4 linked regions of the Homo sapiens genome follow. The protein of the gene in region 1 purifies or fractionates together with the protein of each later gene. This does not show direct contact. Each region holds a gene or a part of one and is shown in the gene's direction. Other genes may lie near its edges.

Evidence for each region. Proteins that work in one complex are often made in the same cells at the same time.
Region 2: the proteins of CDH5 (region 1) and JUP purify together in Homo sapiens (affinity purification with western blotting; 3 studies listed by BioGRID and IntAct, with this or other methods). This does not show direct contact.
Region 3: the proteins of CDH5 (region 1) and MYO5C purify together in Homo sapiens (affinity purification with mass spectrometry; 2 studies listed by BioGRID and IntAct, with this or other methods). This does not show direct contact.
Region 4: the proteins of CDH5 (region 1) and SBF1 purify together in Homo sapiens (affinity purification with mass spectrometry; 2 studies listed by BioGRID and IntAct, with this or other methods). This does not show direct contact.

The regions. Positions count from the first base shown.
Region 1 is NC_000016.10:66,390,691-66,394,190, forward strand, and holds part of CDH5 (cadherin-5 preproprotein), read left to right. Parts: intron 1-1,445; coding exon 1,446-1,693; intron 1,694-3,500. UniProt on the Homo sapiens protein: Cadherins are calcium-dependent cell adhesion proteins. They preferentially interact with themselves in a homophilic manner in connecting cells; cadherins may thus contribute to the sorting of heterogeneous cell types.
Region 2 is NC_000017.11:41,762,712-41,766,211, reverse strand, and holds part of JUP (junction plakoglobin), read left to right. Parts: intron 1-1,144; coding exon 1,145-1,289; intron 1,290-1,395; coding exon 1,396-1,499; intron 1,500-2,890; coding exon 2,891-3,229; intron 3,230-3,500. UniProt on the Homo sapiens protein: Common junctional plaque protein. The membrane-associated plaques are architectural elements in an important strategic position to influence the arrangement and function of both the cytoskeleton and the cells within the tissue.
Region 3 is NC_000015.10:52,247,305-52,250,804, reverse strand, and holds part of MYO5C (unconventional myosin-Vc), read left to right. Parts: intron 1-2,021; coding exon 2,022-2,105; intron 2,106-3,212; coding exon 3,213-3,347; intron 3,348-3,500. UniProt on the Homo sapiens protein: May be involved in transferrin trafficking. Likely to power actin-based membrane trafficking in many physiologically crucial tissues.
Region 4 is NC_000022.11:50,458,036-50,461,535, reverse strand, and holds part of SBF1 (myotubularin-related protein 5), read left to right. Parts: coding exon 1-13; intron 14-249; coding exon 250-377; intron 378-823; coding exon 824-1,002; intron 1,003-1,127; coding exon 1,128-1,264; intron 1,265-1,376; coding exon 1,377-1,584; intron 1,585-1,869; coding exon 1,870-2,066; intron 2,067-2,143; coding exon 2,144-2,281; intron 2,282-3,500. UniProt on the Homo sapiens protein: Acts as an adapter for the phosphatase MTMR2 to regulate MTMR2 catalytic activity and subcellular location. Promotes the exchange of GDP to GTP, converting inactive GDP-bound Rab proteins into their active GTP-bound form.

The DNA.
Region 1 (3,500 bases):
GACCATCAAAGCTCCAAGGTGGTCATGTGTTCATGGAGACTGTGATCCAGTGTCTTAGGCCGAGTTACTTGGGAAGCAAATCTTAAGGCCATGACTGGGTGTAAATTGTTTATCTGGGAGGTGATCCCAGGAAGCCCCAGGAGCAATGACCCACTGCGGGGTAAGTGTGGAACACATCCCAGAGTTGGAGAAGCTGAGGGTGAAGGAGCTGGGGTATTTATACACCCGCTGTCCGTGGTGTTGACTGGGGGCTGCCCCTGGAGTTATTACCTCTCTGGCACTTTCTGGCCTGCCATGTGTCCTGGCCAGTAGAAATCCATCAGCATGAAGAAAACAGTGAGTAATTGTGGTGACATGGATGGCCACTGACACTGGATGCTGCTGACAGCCAGAGAAGCCAGATTAACTGAATCTGGAAGAGGAGGGAGAGGTCCTGTGAGGGGCATAAAAAATGCCTCTGGAATGGCCATGCAGAGGATTGCAAGTCCTGGGCCTGAGTCCTTCTCTGAACCAGCCCCATGCTGGGGCTTGGAAACACCAAGGAGAGGCAGACACAGCCTCCAGTGTCAGCAAAGGTCTCAGCGAATGGGGAAGACATATGCATGAACAAAAAAAGTACAGCCAGGTGTAAGTGATACACAGCAGCTCTGAACAGGGAGCAATTACCTCTGCTAGGAGGGGTTTCTGAGAGAGCATCTGATTACCTTCTGCTTGGCTTCCTGAGGGATGAGTAGGAGTTTTCTAGGCAGGCAAGGGCAGGAGAAGGATCTTGAGCAAAGGCATAAAGAAAAAGCATGTCCGGCCGGGCCCGGTGGTTCACGCCTCTAATCCCAGCACTTTGTGAGGCCGAGGCAGGTGGATCACCTGAGGTCAGGAGTTTGAGACCAGCCTGGCCAATATGGTGAAACCCCGTCTCTACTAAAAATACCAAAATTAGCTGGGCGTGGTGGCAGGTGCCTGTAATCCCAGCTACTTGGAAGGCTGAGGCAGGAGAATCGCTTGAACCTGGGAGGTGGAAGTTGTAGTGAGCGGAGGTCGTGCCATTGCACTCCAATCTGGGTACCAAGAGCAATATTCTGTCTCAAGAACAAAGAAAAAGCCTGTCCTTAAGGACCTGTGGGTAGAACCACTAGTGACGCTCTTAAGAGCAGGACCATAGTTGATCCATTCTATGTCCCAAACGCTGGAAATAGGGCCAGGCACACAGCCAGGGTTGTGGGTGTGGCCATGAGGCTGCTGAGATGAAATGGGGAGCAGCTGAAGACAGACACCAGGCCCAGCCGCTGTCTTGATGACCTCAGAAATATCACTTGTCGAGGCCATGGGCCCCTCATCTATAAAATGGGTGTCATCCTGGTACTACCTTGCATAGTTGCTGTGCAGATCATGTGCCACACACATGCTTGGCCCAGAGCAGGCACTCACCATCCTTTTTCCTTACGCAGCCTCTGGATTATGAATACATCCAGCAATACAGCTTCATCGTCGAGGCCACAGACCCCACCATCGACCTCCGATACATGAGCCCTCCCGCGGGAAACAGAGCCCAGGTCATTATCAACATCACAGATGTGGACGAGCCCCCCATTTTCCAGCAGCCTTTCTACCACTTCCAGCTGAAGGAAAACCAGAAGAAGCCTCTGATTGGCACAGTGCTGGCCATGGACCCTGATGCGGCTAGGCATAGCATTGGGTAAGGGGGCGTGTGTCGATGAGAATGATAAGGACAATCCGGCCTGGATGTTCCTATGCCTGCTGGTCTGAGGCCAGGACTCAGAGAGGGGAACTGGCTTCTCCTAGCACTTACAGGGAAAGTGACAGAGGCAAGACCAGAAGCCCAAGCTCTTGCACTTGGCAGCCTGGCATCTTGACCTGCCTGGACTCCCCCACCTAGCATGGTCCTGGGCATCCAGAGCTACTTGTCCTCTGTCCGGCCTTGAAGGCTTATTCTCTGCACCACAGCTCTCACCAGTCCTATGTGGTAAGATCTGACAGTCAAGAAAGCAACCAATCAGACGACACACCAGAGGCCCCTTCACTAAAACTGTATTCTTGAATCTATCTTCCCCAAACCACAAAAGTAAGAAGTGTTCATTTTATACAGTGAAACAACACAGAGATCTACCAAGAAAACACTGATAACCCCCACTCTCAGATAACTCATGTTCGTGGCCTAACCTGGTCCTATTGCTCCTTTCTTTTCGTGACCACACAAACATGTGGATGCATTTATGGTGGGTTTGTTGTTGTCTGTTTGCTTTTGATGTTTGATTGTTTTAAAATTTTTTTGGATCATGCCATGCTGGTTTCATCGATATTTGCTCTTCTATCTTAACTAAATTTCTCTTTTACAATCTTTAGAAAAAAATGATATAGTTCCAACAGATACTTTTTAGAGCCATATAATATGCAATAGTAAGTATAAATTCAATTCAATCTTATTTTATTGTAGATGCATAGCTGATTTTGCCAGCACCATTTACTAAATATTATAATAATAAGTCATCGTTTTCCCACCTTCATTATATACTAAGTTTTCTGTATATACCTGTATCTACTTCTAATTCTCTGTCCTATCCATCATTCTATAGCAAAGCTATTCTGTTTTATTCTACTAGCTTGTATAAGTCCATTCTCCTATAAAGAAATAGTTAAGACTGGGTAATTTATAAAGAAAAGAGGTTTAACAGGAAGTATAGTGGCTTCTCCTTCTGGGGAGGCCTCAGAAAACTTACAGTCCTGGGGAAGCAGGCACGTCTTACACGGCCAGAACAGGAGTGGGAAGGGAGTTGTTACACACTTTTCAACAACCTGGTCTCATGATAACTCACTAGCTTGAGAACAGAACCTAGGGGATGGAGCTAACCCATTCATGAGAACTCTGTCCCATGGTCTATCCACCTCCCACCAGGGCCCACCTCCAACACTGGGGATTACATTTCAACATGAGATTCGGTGGGGACACAGATCCAAACCATATAGCTTTACACTAGATCTTAGATATACATAAAAGTCCTTCCCATGTTGCTTTTTTATTTGATATAATTTTTTGTCAACTCTCATTTTTTCTTTTGTGAAATTTAAAATTTTGTATCCAGGTTTTTTAAACATTAGAATTCTAGTGTTTATATATTAATTTTGGTATAGCTAATGTTTCAAGGGTATTAAGTCTTCTTATTAAGGACAAAATATGTTCTTCCATTTTGGCCTCATATCCTAAGTTTTGGGACTACTCTTCATTGCCATTCTTTTCTAAATAGCCTGTAATTATAATTTTTGTTTCTCCTTTGATCCAAGGGTTTATTTAAGAGATTGACTTGATTTCTTTATTTTCATTTATAAGTCATAGGGTGTTTTTTTTGTTTTGCTTTAGCTTGTTCTGTGATGTGATACAATTGTATTTGTGTCCACTTCTTCCTAGAATATCTAAGTTTTGACTTTATGTATTTAAATTTTTCTATTCAGTTAACAAAGGTTTGCAACTATTTTACCTTCATTAT
Region 2 (3,500 bases), on another chromosome or scaffold:
GGCATGATCCTAGCTCACTGCATCCTCAAACTCCTGAGCTCAAGCATTCCTCCCATCTTAGTCTTCCTGATAGCTAGGACTATGAGAACATACTACTGAGCTAATTAGCACCCGGGCTAAGTTTTAAATTTTTTGTGGGGATGGTGTCTTGCTCTGTTGCCCAGGCTACCCTCAAGGAATCCTCCTGCTTCAGCCTCCGAAATGCTGGGATTAAAGTCATGGGCCACCATACCCAGCCTACAGATAGCATTTCATTAAGTGGAGACCTCAGGCTTTATTCTGAGGGAGGGTATTTAGATTGCTCCTATTCCACCTTTATAAACAATGCTGTAATGAATGTCTAGCCTTTGTCAAAGAGCGGAAAAAATTCTCATCAATTTTTAACACTTCTAGGCTTTTCCCCAAATGGCCAGATTGATTTCCAGAAGGACTGGACTAATTTCCAGTGCCATAACTGGTAATGGGTGTGCATATAGTTTTGTCATGTCCTTGTCAGCACTGGGTATTATCCTTTTTTCAAAATTTTGGCTTACATAACAGTCATGAAACTATTGGGGTGGGCTGGGTGTGGTGGTTCACGCCTGTAATCCCAGCACTTTGGGAGGCAGAGGCGGGTGAATTGCCTGAGGTCAGGAGTTTGAAACCAGCCTGGCCAACATAGTGAAACCCTGTCTCTACCAAAAACTACAGAAATTAGCCGGGCGTGATGGCACACGCCTGTAATCCCAGCTACTTGGGAGGCTGAGGCATGAGAATTGCTTGAACCCGGGAGGCGGAGGTTGTAGTGACCTGAGATCGTGCCACTGCACTCCAGCCTGGGTGACAGAGCGAGACTCTATCTCAAAAAAAAAAACAAAAAAACTTATTGGGGTGCTTGGCTGGGTGTGGTGGCTCACATCTGTAATCCCAGCACTTTGGGAGGCTGAGGTGTGAGGATCACTTGAGGCCAGGAGTTCTAGACCAGCCTGGGCAGCATAGTGAGACCCCCATCTTTATAAAAAGAAAAAAATACATTAAAAGAAAAAAACGAACTATTCGTGCTTTAGCTGAAGCTCAGTAATGACAGTTCTGTCTCCTGTCCCGCGCTTCCTTGTTCCTGTCATATTCCCCGTCCATCTCACACTCATTCCCTCTTTACCCATAGCTGATCATCCTGGCCAATGGTGGGCCCCAGGCCCTCGTGCAGATCATGCGTAACTACAGTTATGAAAAGCTGCTCTGGACCACCAGTCGTGTGCTCAAGGTGCTATCCGTGTGTCCCAGCAATAAGCCTGCCATTGTGGAGGCTGGTGAGTATGATGGCCTTGAGGGCGGCTGGGGTGGGAGCTCTGCCCAGCTGCCAGGCTCAGTCAGCCATGCTCCCCGTGGCTGATGGCACCCCTATCCCTGCCCCAGGTGGGATGCAGGCCCTGGGCAAGCACCTGACCAGCAACAGCCCCCGCCTGGTGCAGAACTGCCTGTGGACCCTGCGCAACCTCTCAGATGTGGCCACCAAGCAGGTGAGGGAGGTATCTGGGCCTGGGGTTGACCTCTTCAGCTGCCCCATCCAGCCTCCTGTCTGGGCATCTGACCTGAGGTACTGTGGGAGGACTGGGGGCTCTAAATCTCTCTTCCTTGTGACTGAGGCTGGAAATGCCTTGAAAACCCTCATCTCTTTTTTTTTTTTTTTTTTTTTTTCTGACGGAGTCTCACTCTGTCACCTAGGCTGGAGTGCAGTGGTGCAATCTCGGCTCACTGCAAGCTCCGCCTCCTGGGCTCAAGTGATTCTCCTGCCTCAGCCTCCCGAGTAGTTGGGACTACAGGCACCTGCCATCATGTCTGGCTAATTTTTGTATTTTTATTAGAGACAGGGTTTCACCATGTTGGGCAGGCTGGTCTTGAACTCCTGACCTCAGGTGATCCACCCGCCTTGGCCTCCCAAAGTGCTGGGATTACAGGCGTGAGCCACCACATCCAGCAAAAGAACAGTTTTGACCTGGGCCCTGGGCTGGAGCAATAGTGTACCAAGAGACAGGCCCCCATGACTAAAAATACAATTTAAGGAAAAATGCAGCTCCAGGGCAAGTGCCCTGTGCCTCCTTCCAACAACCATTCCCCAGGCCTCCCCTAGCAATATGCTGTTTATCAAGTGCTCACCCTGTGCTGGCCCTCTGCGTGGCATTTGTGGACAGTAGCTCATTCAACCTGGGGTTAGAGTGTGGGACCCTGTGGGTTAGATGAAGACACTGAGGCTCGGGGAGCTAATGGCCATGGTCACAGGTAGTAAATGGCAGAACTGGGATTTGAACCCAGGACTGTCCGTCCCCAAAGCTGGGGTTTTTCTGTTCCACCACAAGGCCCACGTGTCTCCCTGGGAGAAGTGAGATAGACGTCTGAGGTAGTGATTTTACTGGAAATGGATTTGGCTCAGGGCCCCAGGGTGGTGGGGCAGCAGTGAAGGCCCAGAAAGGTGACAAGCGAGTAGACATGGCTCAGCTGGGCCACTGAATCATGCGGCCCCCTCAACAATTGCCTCCTGGTCTCGAGGCCTCCCTTGGCCACCGTACTTTGGCCTGAGGAGGGTTCTGCCTGGGTCTGAGGGCCCCAGGGAAAGGCTGATGAGTTGGAGGGAAGAGATGTGGGGCTTAGAGCCAAGCCTGGGTTCAGATCCAGCCACTAGCTGTGTGTCTGTGGGCAAGTTCCCCAACCTCTCTGAGCCTCATTGCCTCACTTGCACCACAGGATAGTAACGCCCTCTCACAGGGTGTGGCGGGTCATAGGGATGAAAGTTCCCGGGCACACACAGGCAGGGCTGACCCCTTTAGGTCATCCCACTCCCCTTGGACATATTCGAGAAGGCTCCCTGGAGTTGGCTGCTCCCTGACTCCCCCGTCCCTTCCTTGCCCTCCAGGAGGGCCTGGAGAGTGTGCTGAAGATTCTGGTGAATCAGCTGAGTGTGGATGACGTCAACGTCCTCACCTGTGCCACGGGCACACTCTCCAACCTGACATGCAACAACAGCAAGAACAAGACGCTGGTGACACAGAACAGCGGTGTGGAGGCTCTCATCCATGCCATCCTGCGTGCTGGTGACAAGGACGACATCACGGAGCCTGCCGTCTGCGCTCTGCGCCACCTCACTAGCCGCCACCCTGAGGCCGAGATGGCCCAGAACTCTGTGCGTCTCAACTATGGCATCCCAGCCATCGTGAAGCTGCTCAACCAGCCCAACCAGTGGCCACTGGTCAAGGTACTGCTGTTAGGCGAGGGGAAGGAGCTCCCTGCAGCAGGCTTAGGTGCTGTATTGGTATAGGCAAAGCCGCTGTAGCAAAGAAGCCCTAAATACAGTGGCTCGAATAAGACAGAAGTTTATTTCTCTCTCGTGTAATAGTTTAGACCTCAACAATGGCTCTGCTCTAAAATTCCAGAATTGGGATTTCTATCTTGTAGCTCTACCAGCCCCTAGGGCAGAGCTCAGAGTTCAAAATGCACATGAGTACCCTGGGTGGTTTCATTAAATT
Region 3 (3,500 bases), on another chromosome or scaffold:
CATTCTTATTTGTTTTCCTTCCTTAAGGGAGCTCCTACCTCCTCCCATGTCCTGGTTGGGTGTTGCCTTGGTGGCCTAGCCCAGTGCCAGGGCTCACAGGAATGGCTTGTGCTTGTCTATGTTTATCGCAGAGGCCGGTGCTGTGAGTCAGAGCTGGTCATTCCCGAGTGACTGATGGTGGAGGGAGGGGACAGCAACCTGGAAAGCTGTGATCACCTTTGTGTGCTAGCAGAGTACTGTAAAATATTAAAATATAGGATTGGCCGGGTGCAGTGGCTCACACCTGTAATCCCAGCACTTTGGGAGGCTGAGGCGGGTGGATCGCTTGAGACCAGGAGTTTGAGACCAGCCTGGCCAACATGGCGAAACCCCATCTTTACTAAAAAATACAAAAATAAGCCAGGCGTGGTGGCACGCACCTGTAATCCCAGCTACTCAGGTGGCTGAGGCAGGAAAATTGCTGGAACCTGGGAGGCGGAGGTTGCATTGAGCCAAGATCACGCCACTGCACTCCAGCCTGGCTGACAGAGTGAGACCCTGTCTCAAAAAAAAAAAAGAAAAAGAAAAAGAAAAAAAAAAGATAAGTTTTTAGTGCTTAGACTTTTTCAGATGGGCTCCTGAAAAGATGCCTATGAAATGAAATGATCATATGTCAAATTATATTTCCTAGCTATTGTCATAATTTCAGGGTTCTGGTCCCATAGGAAAAGGGAGGGGGAAAGACCAGACTCCATAAAAAGCACATATGGGATTTCTTTCAAGGGTCTCTCTTTATAGGATGTAGTTTCTGGACATGTAATTCTCTCACCTGCCACTTCCAAGAAGTCTCCCTTAAAAGAACTAGGCAGCGTTTGGGCTGGACTATGGATTGATTGGTGGGAAGAACCCACATGCACTATGGGGTTAGATTAGGTTTTCAATCTCATTGGCCAGGGAAATCAGGTCGTATTGAATGCAAGTCAGCTGAGCTTAGATGTAGCAGCTCAGCACATCTTCCTTTGGTCCCAGAGTCCCCAACAGAGGCACCAGCTGCATGTGACACTGTCCCCACAGATGCTCGCCCAGACCAGGAAAGCTCTGTATTTGCCACCTTTGTCTATCTGTCCTAGTGGCTCACACCACCATTCTGGAAGAATTTGTACAACAATCCAGGTACTTCATTCACAAAGAAGTGTTTGCAAACAGCCGGTGTTCCTGGATCTTAACCTACCTACCGGCAAGGATACTTCCTTACCTGGGGGACAAAGCAGAGGCCATGCCCAGGGAACCCTCTGCTTACGGATTCCAGCACTCTCCCCTGTTTCCTCATTGTCAATTTTTAAAATTAATTTTAATATACGTTTTTAATTTATGAAAAATAAATTATCACATATTAAGATATGCAATCCAGAGGCATAAACTAGGGGGAGGTTGAATGTTGAAGCAGCCACCCTGGATATGCCATGGTTTGAGGCATTCGAGAAGCCTTCTTCATCAGAAAGGGCAGCATGGAGAGTTTTTCTAAGCTAGATTCAAGCAGTGCAAAGGTTGACCCACTCTAAACCTGATTCTGAGGGCTTGGTGGCTCTTGAAGGCTTGGTGGTCAGCTGGTCGGTTTTTCTATCCTTTCTACCACATTAATGTTGATTTAGGAAACGATGTCTGTTTGAACCCAATGAACACCACTAAGCTTTTTCCTCCTCCTGGTGGCTTCAAAGGCAAAGGGAGACCTAAGTCAGGTGTTCTTGTAGGAACTGCACATACCGCAGGGAGCAACTGGACCCCTGTGGCCAGAGGGAGCCAACAGGTGAGTGCAGAGTGATCAGCAGGCAGGTGAGAAACCCAGGTGGTGGGAGAGAAGACACATTCCCAGCTTATACATAATGGGGCTGCTGCCATGATGCACAGAAGCCAGACGTCTTTTTGTAAGATTGCCTCTGTAGCCTTTTTTATTAATCTTTCTTAAAAAAGAGATGAAACTTGTGCTTAGAGGCTATATTCTTTGGCCTCTTTGGGAATAATTAATTGCTTTCTCTGTATAGGTAGAGTATAAATGTGAAGGTTTCCTGGAGAAAAACAGAGACACCGTCTATGACATGCTGGTTGAAATCCTGAGAGCAAGCAAGGTCTGTAAAGTCCTAGGGGTAACTAAAGTTATTATATAATTGACATGGATCTAGATGTATATAAGGAAAGAGTAAGGAGAGAGAGAGAGAGAGTGTGTGTGTGTGTGTGTGTGAACTCTCTGGACAGTGGTAAGTTGTAGCTCACAGATTCAAAAAGATAACTACTGTAAATCTCTACTATATGCAAAATCAGAAATCAAACATGCAGATGACAGGAAGGACAGCTAATAGAACCATTGAAGAATCACAATTCCAGCCAGACGTGGTGGCTCACGCCTGTAATCCCCGCATTTTGGGAGGCAGAGGCGGGTGGATTGCTTGAGGCCAGAAGTTTGAGACCAGCCTGGCCAAAAAAGCAAGACCCTGTCTCTTCTAAAAATATAAAAAAACATTAGCAGGGAATGGTGACATGCCTGTAGTCCCAGCTACTTGGGAGGCTGAGGTGGGGAAGACTGCTTGGCCCTGGGAGATAGAGGCTGCAGTGAGCCATGATTGCGCCACTGCACTCTTCTTCTGGGCAGCAGAGCAAGACCCTGTCTCAAAACAAAACAAAACAAAACAAAATATGAAATTCACTCTGAGAGAAGATAAGACATTTAAAGAAATAACTGATACAAAGCAGAAGGTAGTAAGTGCTTTAAATGAGGTACAAATACAAGATGAAGACGGTTCAGAGAAGTTGGGATTAATTCATTCATTGCGAAGTGGGTGGGGCTGGAAAACATTTTAAGAGATTCCTGGGTAGGGTTTGGATCTGCAGGGATGAGAATGTGGAGTAGGAGGGAGGAGATTGCAGGTGGAGACACAGTGTGAGCCAGGCACGGAGGTGAGAATAGTAGATGTTTCCACTTTCTGACACTTAGAGTGATACCCACATACAGACATTTACACACTTTTCTTCTCTGTTCCCCTTCTCGGGAAAGAAGTCACGGGCCATCCCTATGAAAGACGATCGTCTTGTGGAATTGAGATTTGGCTGTAGATGTTGGTGAGGTTGTTCACCGCCCACTAGTTTAGCTGAGTTGTTGTCACCATTTACGTGGCTTGTATGAGTGAGTACTGTGGGCAGTTGCTTTTGGACATTGAGATCCTCTCTGTTCCTTCCAGTTTCATCTCTGTGCCAACTTTTTTCAAGAAAATCCAACTCCTCCTTCTCCTTTTGGTTCAATGATTACAGTTAAATCTGCAAAGCAAGTCATCAAGCCAAACAGCAAGCATTTCCGGACCACAGTTGGGAGCAAGGTACTGAGAAGGTGTTTGAGAGTGAGGGGTCTAAAGGCAGGGCCAGGCCCTGGGGAGCCAGGGCACTCAGAGGACCCGCATTCCAGGCCTGGACATGGACAGACGCTGGGGCTCTTCCAATCTAACATGGACTCCACTGCAAAAAGTTCATCG
Region 4 (3,500 bases), on another chromosome or scaffold:
ACGGACCCCCTGGGTGAGCCTGCAGACTCTCTGGCCCTGTCGCCCCCTCTCCCCCAGGTCTTTGGGATGGATGGGCTTTCCCTGCCTCCCTCTCCCTTTTCTCGGGGGTTCTGGGTGCCCGTGGGAAACGGGCCTTTGTCTGCTCCTTCCCCACCCACTTGGGATTCCCCATAACTGTGGTACCCTGAGATTCTGGGACCCCCCCCCCCTTACCTTCCTTGCTTCTGACTCTGCCTGGCCTGTCCTAAGTTGGGGAGCAGGTGGTGGTCCGCTCCTTCCCGGTGGCTGCGCTGACCAAGGAGAAGCGCATCAGCGTCCAGACCCCTGTGGACCAGCTCCTGCAGGACGGGCTCCAGCTGCGCTCCTGCACATTCCAGGTGGGGCGCGGTGCGCGGGTGGGGCTCTCATCCCCCGCCCTGGTCTTTCTCCTGCAAACCGGTCTTTCTTGTATGAACCATTTTTAGGCCAGTCTCCAGCAGTGGCCCTGTTGTTACGCTTGCATGTCTGGGGCCCTCACTGTGGCTCTTGAGTTGATGTCCACTGTTTGATGTGCGGTCTTTGGGTCCTTGTCCTTTCCTTGGGGCGCCGGCCCTCAAGTCCGTGTCTTGGGTGTGCCTTGCAAACCCAGGCCTCAGCTCACAGCCACTGAGATTTCGAGTTTACACAAGCGCTTGCCTTCGTGTGACACAGATACAGGCCTTTGCCTGGGGCCTGCTTCTCTCTCTGTCATGGCTGCGAGGGGAAGGGGAGCCTGGCAGTGTCAGAGTTGGGGGAGGGGCTGGGGGGCCACCCACACCCCTAAGGGCTGCTTTTACTGACACAGCTGCTGAAAATGGCCTTTGACGAGGAGGTGGGGTCTGACAGCGCCGAGCTCTTCCGTAAGCAGCTGCATAAGCTGCGGTACCCGCCGGACATCAGGGCCACCTTTGCGTTCACCTTGGGCTCTGCCCACACACCTGGCCGGCCACCGCGAGTCACCAAGGACAAGGGTCCTTCCCTCAGGTATGGATCTGGGTCCCAGGCAGGGCAGCTGGGCCTCAGCCGTGTTCCCGCTCCAACCCTCCTAGGCCCCTGTGCTCATCTTTGTCCCTCCTCCTCTCACCTTTGCTGACTCTCGTGGGCCTCAGAACCCTGTCCCGGAACCTGGTCAAGAACGCCAAGAAGACCATCGGGCGGCAGCATGTCACTCGCAAGAAGTACAACCCCCCCAGCTGGGAGCACCGGGGCCAGCCGCCCCCTGAGGACCAGGAGGACGAGATCTCAGGTGGAGGGGTGGGGGTGGAGTCCTGGGTGGTCTCTGGATGCTGACATTGGCCAGGGAGGATCAGGGCAGGCGGAGTGGCCCCGTGATGACCACGTGTGCCCGGCCTGTGCAGTGTCGGAGGAGCTGGAGCCCAGCACGCTGACCCCGTCCTCAGCCCTGAAGCCCTCCGACCGCATGACCATGAGCAGCCTGGTGGAAAGGGCTTGCTGTCGCGACTACCAGCGCCTCGGTCTGGGCACCCTGAGCAGCAGCCTGAGCCGGGCCAAGTCTGAGCCCTTCCGCATTTCTCCGGTCAACCGCATGTATGCCATCTGCCGCAGGTGAGGGCCGGCCAGGGCTGGCCCGGGTGGTGGACACGTGACTGGGTGTCTTCCCTGCCCGCTGTGGGCCTGGGCCACGGCTTCTGGTCATGTAAGGAATGTGGAGGGGGAGACTCCGGGCAGAGGGACGGGCCACAGGGCTGGGGGGTGGCTGGGGGGCCCCGTGGCTGAGCTGGAAGCGCCTCCTGCTGGGAGCCATGGGCTGGCTCCTCTTGCCCTGCTTGGGGCGTGAGCCTGGAGGCGGGTGGGGTCGCCAGCCACCTTCACGCCTCTGCCTCCTCTCAGCTACCCAGGGCTGCTGATCGTGCCCCAGAGTGTCCAGGACAACGCCCTGCAGCGCGTGTCCCGCTGCTACCGCCAGAACCGCTTCCCCGTGGTCTGCTGGCGCAGCGGGCGGTCCAAGGCGGTGCTGCTGCGCTCTGGAGGCCTGCATGGCAAAGGTGTCGTCGGCCTCTTCAAGGCCCAGAACGCACCTTCTCCAGGTACCTCCTGCGTCCTGCCCTGTGCCTGCCCTGCCCTATCTCACCCTCCCCTCCCTCAGCTCCGTGTCCTCCCCCAGGCCAGTCCCAGGCGGACTCGAGTAGCCTGGAGCAGGAGAAGTACCTGCAGGCTGTGGTCAGCTCCATGCCCCGCTACGCCGACGCGTCGGGACGCAACACGCTTAGCGGCTTCTCCTCAGCCCACATGGGCAGTCACGGTGAGGGTGCTTGTGGGCAGACGGTGGGGCAGGGGCACTTTGGGGGGCCGTGGTGGCATTTATGGTTTGGCAGGCAGGCCAGGGAGGAGCAGAAACGGCGCTGGTCATGGATGTTTGGGTGTGGGATGAGGAGCATGCCCTCCGGGTGCCGTGGGGCAGGGGCGGGAAGCCTGTCCAGACCAAGTGTGTGCCCAGACCAGGTGTGTGCCCTGACCTCCTGCCCGCCCTGACGTCCTGCCCGCTCTCCACCTCTGCGTCTGCTGCAGCTTCCTGTAGGGTCCTCCGGGTGCTGCCTCTACGCGGCTCTGTCTTACCATTTCCCACAGCCTGGAAACATCCCAGATGCTCCTCTGTCCTGTTCCCTCCCAGTGTCACTGTTTTTCCTCATCCCCCACACTCCACCCTCCCTGCATCCCCCAATCCAGACTGTCTTTGGAGCCTCTGGCCTGGCTCTGCCTGCAGCTTGGCCTCTGTCCTCGTGTGTCCTGGTTCCTTGGGCCTTGCCCGAGCTGGCCTTGCTGTCTCTGTCCCCACCGCCACGCACACTTCACAGGCGCCCTGCACACACTGAGCTAGACTGGCCCCAGGACGGGGTGGCAGATAGGCCCCACACTCACTCCTGTGTCCGGACCACCTGTTCTCTAGTTCAGAAGTGGTTTTGTTTTTCCAGATACCACATTATATACTTACATTTTACAATCGCCCTGTCTTGCTGCCTTCCCACCCCTGCCAGAAACCCTGAGTGGCATTTGCAGGTGGGGCCGCCCCTGCACCCCCCATGCCTGTGCTTCCCACAGAGTCCCTTTTGCGTCTCCGACCATCCCCAGTGCCAGTGGCTGCTGCCTCCCCGTGTCCCCCTCAGTGCCCAGCAATGCTCAGGGGCTCAAGCTTCACTCAGCTGTAGTCGTGGCTTCTAGTCCCAGCCCTGACCTTTTTTTTTTTTTTTTTTTGAGTCGGAGTCTTTCTCTGTCACCCACGCTGGAGTGCGGTGGTGCGATCTCGGCTCACTGCAAGCTCCACCTCCCAGGTTCACGCCATTCTCCTGCCTCAGCCTCCCGAGTAGCTGGGACTACAGGTGCCCGCCACCGCGCCCGGCTGATTTTTTTGTATTGTATTTTTAGTAGAGACAGGGTTTTACCGTGTTAGCCAGGATGATCTCGATCTCCTGACCTGGTGATCCGCCCGCCTCGGCCTCCCAAAGTGCTGGGATTACAGGCGT